Linked DNA regions of Homo sapiens: region 1 is linked to region 2. A link means that fine-mapping ties the variant in region 2 to the expression of a gene that starts in the linked region. Tissue or cell type: whole blood. Region 2 holds a variant in brackets; the other region holds the start of a gene. All regions are shown on one strand. Distances are from middle to middle.

Region 1 (6,121 bases), 79 kb before region 2:
GACCAGCCTGGCTAACATGGTGAAACCCCATCTCTACTAAAAATATAAAAATTAGCTGGGCATCATGGCAGGTGCCTATAATCCCAGCTACTCAGGAGGCTGAGGCAGGAGAACTGCTTGAACCCAGGAGGCCGAGGTTGCAGTGAGCTGAGATCGTGCCATTGCACTCCAGCTTGGGCAACAAGAGTGAAACTCCCTCTCAAAAAAAAAAAAAAAAAAAAAGTAAACCCAGTTGAGTTCTGTGTGTCCTGGATACAAATTGAAGGAGACATCTGAAAGGCTCCTGGGGGCCTTGGGCTATAACCCTAAGTCCCTGGCCTAGAAGAAAGAGCAAGACTGGCTGCCTGGCATTCTATCTCCCCCTGTCAAACTCCCCCAATCTAGGGGACTGAATATTGTCCTGTAGAGTGAAATGCAGTGGTAAAGGGCATGGTCTCTGAATCTGGGTTGAAATCGTGGCCCTGTAACAGGAAAGGTAGGATAGTGAGGTGGCGAAGTGCTTGGGCTCAAGAGTCAAAGGCTGAAGCTCAGATCCATGTGCCACTGGGTTATTTCATCTCTCTTAGCCTCAGTCTCCTTATCTATAAAATGGGAATGATAACAATACTGCTGATTTCATAAAGCTGCTGTGAGGAGTAAATAAGATAATGCATGTAAAGTGCCTAGCCTGGGCTCTTTGCTTATTCAATACATAGTTGTTATTATTATTATTATTATTGCCTACTCATTGGAGGCTTTTCTTGATGTTCATACAATTGAGTTCATCAGGACTCAATTGTAAATGCTTTGATGGGGTGAGGGTGGGGAACATAATGATTGGAGACAGCAAATGGGGCTTCAATACCCTAGGGATGGCCTTGATAATTAATTACAGTGTGGCTCTAACTACACCAAATCAGTTGTCCCTAGCAGGGGTTCATGTATGTGCTACCCCGGGACACAGGCAGGCAGCCCAGAAGAGGCCACACCCTTGCTCTTAGACTGAGAAGAGCTGGCTGAGACCTCTCTACCACTCTCCTCCAAGGGCTGGTATGTTACAGCCCAAAAGCCTTCTATTGCTGGCCATGGTCTAGGCCAGACCTCGGACTGTCACACTGGACTTTTCTCTCTCTCGCAAAGGACGAAGCCCTTGGCAGTCATCTCCAAGCATGGCTTTGGCATGTATTCCTTGAACAACTTCAGGCTAGCCAGAGTGCGAGGCCAAATCTTCTCTTATCTAGATCACGTGCTAGCCGCCAGGCTCTGCCATCTTCCCACAGACATGCTGGTCTCTCGCCTGCCAGCATGGTCCTGAGATTGCAGCAGCTTTACAAGAAGCAGGGTCACCATCTCCCCACTCCCACACGCCACTCTGAGCTCCTTTGGAATCTGCCCTCAGAGGACTCCTCCATGAGCAGTGTCACAAGGCTTTGTCCCCTTGAAAATATCATCTTCCCCAAAAAAGCCTGTATTAAGCACTTATCTGCACGTGGTGTTGTGCTGAGCTCTGTTTCTAGTGAGTCACACTGTCACAGGCTCTGCCCTCTGGGAAAAAGTCTGGAATCTTTGCCAGAGACTGTAAAGTCCAGTTTGGCTAAGTACTGGGGTGTTAGAAGAGAAGGAATAGTTTAAAAATTCCTTCAAGGCCACTGGGTGGTGACTCTTCCACTCGTGTTCATCTGTCATCCCTCACTTTCTAGCTTCTTCCTCCCTCCTTCTTTAGATTCCCAAACACTTCATTTTTTCCATCTAAATTTCAGATGGACTTATTTCCCACCTTTTAAATCCAGGGAACTCTTTGGCTCACTGTAGCACTTGATTTTAAGCAAATGGGAGCATTAGGTTTTTGAGGTTTAAGAGCCCATCTGTAAAGATATTTCTACTTTGGATTACAAAGTCATGTTTTAGAAATTCTAGAATCTTATAGCCTTACATTAAAGAAGCTAGACACACTAGAGGAAGTCTTAACCAAGCAAATGTCAACAGCCCCAGGAAAGGACAGAGACAGATACCGCCTTTGACTTTAAAAGGAAATGTAGCACTTCCCTTCCAAAATGCAAGGGGCAAAAAAGATCACGATTTCAAAATAATGTTCTATCTTCCTACCCTGGGGCTCTCCCTTATCAGTACTGAGCTGTCCATCTTCCTGACATCTAGTGAGTTGGCCTAGTTTCTGAAGCCATTTTTAGAACACGTTCATTTTAATAATCAAGGAGTCAGGAGTCTCGCACAGTTTCAAGTGTTTCATCAGTTTCATCAGTTACTCAGCCCTTCTCTCCACGTCACTCAGAGGAGGGGCCTTGTGGTCACTTTGGCAGTTTGACCAGCAAGAAGGAGGCTTACTGTCACCCCTGACTCTGTCTAAGGTCCAACCATACGCTCAAGGAAAGGCCAGCTGTGAGCCTAGAGGAGTTGTCTTCAGTGATCCCAGTGCCTTTATAGAGGCCCCCCTCTGCTCCCCATGACACAAGAAGTTGCCCTTGTTATGTCCTCCCTCCCGCCATCCCCTGCACATTGACATATTCCTGTCATATCAGGTTTCTACCTTTTCTGAATTAAAGGTGAGCACAAATGGTCAGACAAGAATATTTGCACTTAGCCTATTACATAAACTCATGGAGGGGGAGGATTGAACATTCCCCTGGCCCTCGGTTAAGTCACTGCATTTTTACAAAGACCTGAAGACAATACCAACAGAATGAATAAGGAGCAGTTCATGTATTAGATGCCCCAGACAAGTAAAGAAGATATCATTCCAGGGGGGCTGTTACAAAAAAACAAGTTTTGTCTATTACGAAGGGCTGGACCCTGCCTCAATTTCTTTAAAAGGGCTCATGGCTTTCTGCCAGAACCACCCCACTCCACCGCCATCTCAACTCAGCCCTAATTTTTTAACTATAAACTGCAATTTAAAATAAAGCAGCTTTTTCATTCTCCATGGATTTCCATCATTTCCTTCCCTCTAACGCCTTGAGGCTTAGCCAAAGTGGGGTTTTGCAGCCTATCGGCACCCAAGCAGTAGAAGAGACATCAGGATGTGTAAAGTGCTTTGGGATCCATCCCAGAGACTAGGACCCACAGATGCCTCCTGCCTCCCTCTGCCCACAGGTGCCGCTGCTCGGGGTAGGGGTCATGGATGGGAATCCAACATGCTTTTCCTGGCAGGACCTGTCAGGCAGGGGCTAAGGGTAAGAATGCAACCCCATTCTCAACCGCCCTAAAAAACTGAGTGAAGTGGGGACGGGGCCCCGCTGAGAGAGGTGAAAAGGGGTGAGGAGGAGCCGAGGGTCCTCGGCTCAGCAAGAGGCGAAACCGCCACGCGCTGGACGCTGGACGACGACAACCGCTAGAGCTATGCCTCGGGCGAGGTCCCCTCCCGGGTCCCACCCTTCCTGGACCTGACCCCCTGGATCACCTTGATCTTCTCGCCCTCGATTTCCACGGTCTTCTCCCTGAAGTCCACGCCGATGGTGGCTTCAGTCTTGTCTGGGAAGGTACCCCCGCAGAAGCGGAAGGTCAGGCAGGTCTTGCCCACGTTGGAGTCCCCAATCACGATTATTTTGAAGATGCGAATCTGCACGTACTGGTCCAGCGACGAGTCGAGCTCCAGGGACGCCAGGCCAGCGGCCGAGGCGGGCTGCAGGCTCCCATGGCCCAGGATGGGCTGCGCCATCTCCCCCGGACCGAACCGGGGCCCCAACCCCCCTTGAGGGCTCCACACAAAGAGAACGTCCACGTTCGTGCGCTCGAGGCGAGCGAGCTCTGTGCGTGTGTGTGTGCGCGCGTGTGTGTGTGTCCGCCCGTGTGTGCGTGCGCCGGCACCGTGTGCGCGCGCGCGCGTGAAGGGGGTGCCTCTCACTCCGGGCCCCCCTCCTCCTCCTCCAGCGCACCCTCCTTGCAGCTCGGAGGCACCAACACAAAAGCCAGGGAGAGGAGGAGAGAGGGAGGAGAGTGGACGAGCCGCGAGCCTTCTGCCTGTGTGCGCCCTCGGACCGGATGCTCTGGCGAAGGACCCTACCGCGCTGCTCCAGCCGCCGCCGCGCCTCGGCCCACACCCTCCCCTGCCTGCATTCCCGGGACGGACCCGAGGGAAGAAGCCTCAGGAGGAAAGAGACGGGGTGGGGACAGCGGCACACGCCACCCCGGGATAGACTTCTTTCTCCTTGCCCCCGTTTATGTTATAGGTTTCGGGCTCCCCACCCCCACTGGCTCGAGCGCACGGGGTCAGCGGGCAGGGAGCACAGCTGGGGAGGACAAAGAGCTGCACCTTAAGACATCACTGGATCACTTCGGCCTCCCTGGAGCAACGCAACTCTGCGGGGATGGGGTGGGGGCGGAGGCACCTCTTTCACCTCGGGAGCAGCGGGCAGCTGAGCCGCGCCTTCCCGGTCCCCGCTACCCCGTCCCCTCTACCCCCACCCTCTACCCGACCCGCGCCTTGGGATAAAGGGATGCTCTGTCTTAATGAGTGAGCAGGTGCACTCGCGGGCCCCAGGCAGCCTGGGAGGCCGCTGCCAAGACACGCAGTGGGTTGTCCGGGGCCTGTACAGCTGAGAGGAGGGAGCCAGCGGGCACGCGTGTGCGTGTGTAGGGGGTGTAACTGTTTCTGTTACAGACTTGCCAGATGTAGGGGGGCGCGTACCAGGCGCCAACATCCCCTTATCACACCACGCGCACCCATCCTCTGAATGTTCAGGAGAGCGGCTCCTATTGGCTGCCGCAGTCGGTTGTGTTTGGCTGGCCAATGGGGAAGGCCCGCCGCGGGAGAGGGCCACACAGAGGCTAGGAGAAGGGGGGGAAGCTAGTGGTGGCAGTTCCAGCAAAAGGGGACTTTGTTTACGGGGCTAGCCATTACTGGCCCAGGTGGAGGATCTTGGGACAATGGCATAAGCTCCACAGTGCCTTCCATTCCCAAGCCCTCCATATAACCATAAGTCCCTCCAGAACGCTGGAGTTTCAGAGGGAGTTGGGAATCCCTAGGAGGGTTCACCTCCCCCTGCAGCTGAATGTAGAACAAAGTGGTTGGGTCTAATTTGCCAGAAGCCTAGATTATGCTTGGAAGATGATAAATGAACACAACCTCCTTACAGTATTAGGGGGCTGCTGCCCAAAGCTTACTAATCATCACACACATCTTGGTCAAGACCAGTATTCCTTCTCCCTAAAGTCATTCGCGGGTTCAGAATTTGTTTGAAATCGACTTTACTGGGGGTACAATTTACATACGATAAAGTGCACCCATTTGTTTCTTTTAAGACTTTACCTCTCCCCCTACATATTTCATAAGCTAAGGTAACACTGACACATGTCACTAGCACTGACTCGTGAGTTATTGCTAATGCCATCAAGGTCAGGGATTCAAACAGCACAGTTGAGCTGCCATCTTATTTGGGAGGTTGAGCTGCAGGAAGAGACAAACATGACCAAATCCATTTCTGCTGAGAGAAAAACAATTCAGTGCATCAGTGATATACCTGAAAGCAAATTGGAATGTGACTACTCAAGGACGTCCAAGTTACTCAGAATGGCATCTTCCAGTTAATAAGTTTATTAGCTGAGCTAGCAGATATATTTACAGCTAACCCTTTTATCATATATGTGGGTCGCCCATTTCTAAAACCCTACATTATACTACTCAGCATTAAAACTACCCAGATAAGGATTTCCTCTTAGTTGGCTAATCCAAAATCATCCTTATGAATACCAATTTTCATTGTATTATGTATCAATCATCATTGTACAGTATTTTTGGTTTTGATTAGTCTGATGCCTAGTTTGCTGGATCGTTCCCCTCTGTATTGGAAGTTAATGCCCCTGATGATCTTTATCTACAGAATAGCTTTAAGGTGGAGAGGGGTAACTATTAATTAGGTACATCCTGTACACAAAGTAGAAAGGGGCTTTGCCCTTTGCCAATTCACAGCTAGAATTAATGCTAACTTCCTGAGAGATATTAAAAAAACATATGTACATAATAAGATTATTTCAATGTAAGCTTCTAGCAAAAACTTGTCACTGAGTCTACTTTTGTAAGGAAGAAACTTTGATTTCTGAAAATATGATATCTCAAAATGGGCTTCTTGCCCTAATAAAAGGTGTCTGTTACTTCTGTGGGGTGAGACTTTGGGGGATTTCCACTTAT
Region 2 (6,121 bases):
TGGCACACACCTGTAGTCCCAGCTATTTGGGAGGCTAAGGCATGAGAATAACTTGAACCCGGGAGGCAGAGGTTACTGTGAGCTGAGATCGTGCTACTGCACTCCAGCCTGGGCGACAGAGTGAGACTCTGTCTCAAAAACAAAACAAAACAAAAAAAAACCCAAAACATTTTCATCACCCCCAAAAGAAATCCCATACCCATTAGTATTCACTCCCCATTTTCTCCCAACCCTTGGGCCTCAATTTTGAAGATAACTTGCTACAAACATGTTTTGAGGGGGTGGAGCACCCAGCAATATTGTTTAGGCAGATGGGCTACTGAGCTTAGTGGGAATTTGGATACAAAGAGACTCTACCACAGAGAATAGGGTGGGCCCCGTGATTAGTCCCCTGGCCCTGGGCCTGGCACCTATGAGGTGTTCAAGGCTGACTTTCCATAAATATTTGAATAAACATGTGAACCAACACCCCAAGATAAGAGCCCAGACTTACATTATATGTAAGCCAAGAGCAAGTGTATATTTATGGGGCAGGGACCATGCTGTGGCTACTTGAGGTCTGGAGCCAGGAACTCTCTGGAAACAGCAGAGCTTATAGGAAGAGTCGGCCTCCACATCATCAGAGCTGGAAGGCTCCCCCTCCACAATACTCCTTCTCCGCAGCTGGCCACAGGAGCTCACATGGTCACCATTGGAAGTTAGAATTGACTTACTAGATGGAGCTTGGGTTGACATTGAGTCCTTGAGGGGCTTGGGACACAAGCCTGGGAAGCCTCTGTTGAAGCGGCCCCACAGGGGCTCTGAGGCTTCGAAGTGGAGAGCTGTGAGCCAGCCTTGAGCTAGGGATCCTAGCAGATGGTTGCTAGCATGGACAGAGGAAAAAGCAGGGACTTCAAGATCAAGGTCACACCGGCCCCAGTTTGAGTTCTGCCTCCATTCTTGGGCAGTGGTGGCCTTGATCATGTTACCTAATCTCTGAGCCTCACTTCTACTGTTTTTCAAATGAAACTATTAAAACAGAATTATTACCAAAGCAGATTTCACTGAAAACAAAGTTCATTGTGTGTAGTAGTTGGAAATAAAGCTAGGTTCAAACCCCGGCTCTGCCACTTACTGGCTCCTTTGCAGGGACGGTGTAGCACCCCAGAACTACACATCCCTGCCACCTTCCCTGCACACCACCCTGTCATCTTGTCATTTTTACTGTTTGGCCCTCCTTTTCCCGAAGCAGGGGGAGCAACTTGAAGTGGTATCAGAGAGCGCAAAAGAAAATCTTGCCCACCTTTACACAAGCACCCACGCCCCACTGCCCCTCCCCCAGCAGGCCATGCCTGAGACCACAGTGGCCACACCCACCACCCTCGGCCCACCAGCAGCTCAGGTCACTGCCAACCCCACAAGTGCTCACCCTGAGCTGGCACCAACCTCAAGCGCTTCCACCCCCTCCACCCAAACACGTGCCGCCAGCTTTGAGCCAGGCTTGTAACCAAACCCTGGCCCTGGGTTTGTGCTGCAGATGTAGGGAGGGGCTGGCAGAAGCCCAGGTGCACATCCAGATGTTGTTTCTAAGGTTTCCTTGGCGTTCTCCCTACCAGCTGTGAAGCCGTATTCACTCCAGCTTGCAGGAGTGGACAAGCAGGTACTCCCCTCAGGGGCGGCGGGGCCCTATCTGGAGGGAACTGGTTCCTCTTTGTCCTAGGGGGGACATAGAGTGAGAGGGGACAGGGAAAAGTGGGACCCTGCTCTCTCTCTCTCTCTTTTTTTTTTTTTGAGATGGAGTCTCCTCTGTCACCCAGGCTGGAGTGCAGTGGCGTGATCTTGGCTCACTGCAACCTCTGCCTCCGGGTTTCAAGCGATTCTCCTGCCTTAGCCTCCCGAGTAGCTGGGATTATAGGCGCCCGCCACCATGCATGGCTAATTTTTGTTTTGTTTTGTTTTGTTTTTGTTTTTTTGAGATGGAGTCTCACTCTGTCACCCAGGCTGGAGTGCAGTGGCGTGATCTCGGCTCACTGCAACCTCTGCCTCCTGGGTTCAAGTGATTCTTCTGCCTCAGCCTCCCGAGTAGCTGGGACTACAGGCTTGCACCACCACGCCTGGCTAATATTTGTATTTTCAGTAGAGATGGAGTTTCACCATATTGACCAGGCTGGTCTCGAACTCCTGACCTCATGATCCGCCCACCTGACCTCATGATCCGCCCACCTTGGCCTCCAAAGTCTGAGATTACAGGCGTGAGCCACCACACCCGGCCAATTTTTGTATTTTTAGTAGAGACGGGGTGCCTCCATGTTGGCCAGGCTGGTCTTGAACTCCTGACCTCAAGTGATTCACCCACCTCGTCCTCCCAAAGTGTTGGGATTACAGGTGTGAGCCAC[C/T]ACGCCCGGCCCCTGCTCTCATGACAGGAGGCCTGGCTGGGCAGGGTTCTTGGCCAAAGATACAAGAATATGGCCCCGAGCTGAGAGAGGTATCAAGATCACCTTCTCAGCCATTTTTTTTGCAGGCCCATCCAGAACCATCATTTGTAGGAATCCCCTTAGCTTCTTGCACAGCTGCTTGAACCTCAGGGAACAATATCACTACGGGGAAGCCAAGGTGATTGTGTCCATCCACCACGAGGCCCCCGAACCAGGCAGCAAGGCTTCTAGAGCCAGCATCACATAGTTCTGGCCTGTCCCCAGGAGGACTGGCAACTGGGCAGAGAGGTCCAAAGCCTCAGGCTGCTTACAGCTGTTCTGACCCATGGCCTTGGGAGGGTCTCACTGAGTGGGTCACCTGCCTGCACAATAACCTCACAGGCACACAGCCCTACGGCTAGGAACCCCACCTTGCAACAGCACCTGGGAGGTACTTAAGAGTGGAAGTCACCACACCAAGTCATCAGCCACCATGGAATGTGAGAGTTTCCTGCTACATCACCCAGAAAATGCCTCTACCCTTGACCCATATGTGATATAATACAGTTGACCCTTGAACAACATGGGTTTAAACCACACGGATCCACTTTATATGTGGATTTTTTTTTTTTTTTTCTGAGACAGAGTTTTGCTCTGTCACCCAGGCTGGAGTGCAATGGCGCGATCTTGGCTCACTGCAACCTCCGCCTCCTGGGTTCAAGCAATTCTCCTGCCTCAGCCTCCCAAGTAGCTGGGATTATAGGCTCACCACTGCACTCCAACCTGGGGGACAGAGTGCCTGCCACCACGCCATCATGTTGGCCAGGCTGGTCTCGAACTCCTGACCTCAGGTGATCTGCCTGCCTTGGCCCAAAATGCTGGAATTATAGGCATGAGCCATCACACCCGGCCTATATGTGGATTTTTTTTTTTTTTAACAGTATTCTCAAGATTCGAAACCTGAGTACAGGGAGGGCCACCTTTTTGGATTTGTGGGCTCCACAGGCCAACTGCGGGACTTGAGTGTGCATGGATTTTGGTATTCCCAGGTGGTCCTGGAACCAATCCCCAAGTATGCCAGGGGACAACTGTACTTTGCCCTCCGTTGTCGCCTGTGTCCATTGGTGCTAGGGACAAGGCCCCTGCAAAATTACGAAGTGACATTGATTTCAATGTCATCTGCCCCAGTGAACTAACCTCTCATCCTCTTGCTTCATTAAACCTGTCCCTCCATTCGAAGCCACCCTGGGCTAGTCCTTCCTGGACATTGACCTCAGCATTTATATTCCAGTTTTTTATCCAGTCCTCTAAGGCCAGGCTCACTCCACCCCTCAAGGTGACAGCTAGGTAAAGTGATAAAGTCATTTCTACTCATCTGGTAGTAGGAGAGGGTTTGTGGAGAGGGTTTGTGGTAGCAAGAGAGCCCCAATCTCCCTCCCAGGTACTGCATCCGCTTGTACCTGCTCCTAGCCCAAAGCAGTCTGGTAGACCTGCCACTGGGGCGTCCCCTTGTGTAGACAGCTGTCTCCTCAGCCTTCCTGTGAGGGATCCTCCCCACTCACCACGCAGGGCCCTTCCCTCTCTGCACTCCCTGACCTGTGTGAGGCAGGGGCGGGGCTGGGAGGGCCAGCAGGCCCCGAAGGGGAAACTGCTGAAACCCCTGGGACAGGAAGTGGCAGAGAAGGGCTGTTTCCGCTGGCAGAGCAGGGGTGCGGTGAGAGCTGGCCCTATCTCCTACTCCACTGCCTGTCTGCTGTGGGCCCTGGGAGGCTGGGGAGAGGTGAGAGTCCTTTCCCTGTCTCCCTCCCAAAAAAGTGGAGGCTTTTAGCCCACCGGACTGGAGGGAGGGGAGGGCTCTTTCAGAGGAGGCCATCTTCATTTTGCAAGGAGAGGAATTCCGAGAGGAGGGCAGAAAGGTCAGCAGACGGGAAGGGTGGGGCAGGGCAGGTGAGTGTGGAGTGAGGGAGGCCCATGGGGGCAGCGGAAAACCACAGCTGGGCAGAGGACCCTTCTGTAAGCTTTTGTTCTGAGGGTAAATGATCAGGACCATGCCTGCTAAGAACTGTGGGAGATGGTAATGCAGTTGATCACTGCCTGTCTAAGTCATAGGGCTAGACAGGCCCTTAGGTCACCCAGTCCAACCCCCTCATTGTGCAGATGAGGTAACCGAGGCACACAAAGCAGAAGTGACCTGCTCGAGGTCACATCATGGGCAGAACTCACGTCTCCTAACCCCAGCCCAGGACCTTCTTTCTGATGAGAATCTGCTGAGTTGTATTTGGCATCCCACACCTCCCTGCAGGCACCTCCATCCCCAAGTGCTCTGTGACATTCTTCTCAGAAATCAACATGATGGGGTGGGTGTGGTGGCTCACGCCTGTAATCCCAGCACTTTGGGAGGTGGAGGTGTGAGGATGGCTTGAGGCCAGGACTTGGAGACCAGCCTGGGCAATATAGCAAGACCCCATCTCTGAAAAATAAATAAATACAAATTTGAAAAAATATATATTTTTTTGAGATGGAGTTTCACTCTTGTTGCCCAGGCTGGAGTGCAGTGGCACGATGTCGGCTCACTGCACCTCTGCCTCCCGGGTTCAAGCGATTCTCCTGCCTCAGCCTCCTGAGTAGCTGGGATTACAGGCGCCCACAACCATGCCCAACTAATTTTTTGTATTTTTAGTAGAGACGGGGTTTCATCATGTTGGCCAGGCTGGTCTCAAACTCCTGACCTTAGGTAATCCACCCGCCTCGGCCTCCCAAAGTACAGGGATTATAGGAGTGAGCCACTGTGTCTGGCCTAAAATAAATTTTAAAAAAGAAATGAACTTGGTGAATTTATTCACACTGAAGCCTTTAGTCCAGCATTCAGCAAACCTTTCCTACAAAGAATTGGTTGAGCCAGTTTATTTGAGACCAACCTGGACAACATGGCAAAACCCTGTCTCAACAAAAAATACAAAAAGTTAGCCGGGCACGGTGGCGTGCACGTGTAGTTCCAGCTACTTGGGAGGCTGAGGCGGGAGGATTACTTGAGCCTAGGAGACAGAGGTTACAGTGAGCCATGATTGTGCCACTGCACTCCAACCTGGGTGACAGATCAAAACCCAGTCTCAAAAAATACATATATTAAAAAATCACTATATGTCAGGAAATATTTTTCTTTTGATTTTTCCCAATCATTAAAAAATGTAAAACCCATTCTTAGCTCATGGGCCGTCTAAAAATGGACCGCAGGGCTGGGTTTGGCACATGAGCCATAGTTTATGAACCCCTGCTTTGGTCTAAGAAGTAAAGCTAAGGTGTCATGAGGAGGAGGAGAGAGTGTGCCAGGTGGGGAGGAAGCAGGGAAGGCTTTGAAAAGAAGGTGACATTTGCTTCAGATCTTGAAGGACTTGTGGGCATTGGGCTTGCAGAAGTTGAAGAAGGGCCTGTCAGGCCTGGGGGACAGTGTGAACACAGGCACGGAGGTGGAGGTGGGGAAGGCACTGTGGAGGTGGGGAAGGCACTGTGAAGGTTCAATGTGCCCTGCATGTGTGTGGCTTCTTCTTCTTCTTCTTCTTTTTTTTTTTTGAGACAGAGTCTTGCTCTGTCGCCCAGGCTGGAGTGCAGTGGCGTGATCTTGGCTCACTGCAACCTCCATCTCCCGGGTTCAAGCAATTCTCCTGCTTCAGCCTCCTGAGTAGCTGGGACTACAGGAGGGCGCCACCACACCTGGCTAATTTTTGTAT

Direction of the effects. Positions count from the first base shown, and alleles are read on the strand shown. Sizes are in standard deviations (SD) of each study's normalised expression.
As copies of T replace C in region 2, the expression in whole blood of the gene that starts at base 3,753 in region 1 goes down (small effect, 0.27 SD a copy in GTEx).

Evidence for each region. PIP is the estimated chance that this variant, and not a neighbour inherited with it, causes the effect.
Region 1: RAB33A starts here. The variant in region 2 is fine-mapped to the expression of RAB33A in whole blood (GTEx, PIP 0.95).

What each region holds. Positions count from the first base shown.
Region 1 is chrX:130,169,594-130,175,714 of GRCh38, reverse strand. RAB33A (RAB33A, member RAS oncogene family) reads right to left here and starts at 3,753. Exons shown (of 2, transcript NM_004794.3): 1 at 3,395-3,753. The coding sequence starts at 3,652. RefSeq lists enhancers at 3,216-4,170, 4,980-5,029 and silencers at 4,290-4,369, 4,540-4,599.
Region 2 is chrX:130,090,215-130,096,335 of GRCh38, reverse strand. All of the region lies in intron 1 of ELF4 (E74 like ETS transcription factor 4), which reads left to right. Among named protein-coding and RNA genes, the nearest start is that of ELF4, 17 kb to the left of the region's middle. RefSeq lists a silencer at 4,602-4,651. The variant C/T (reference allele first, on the strand shown) is at 2,376.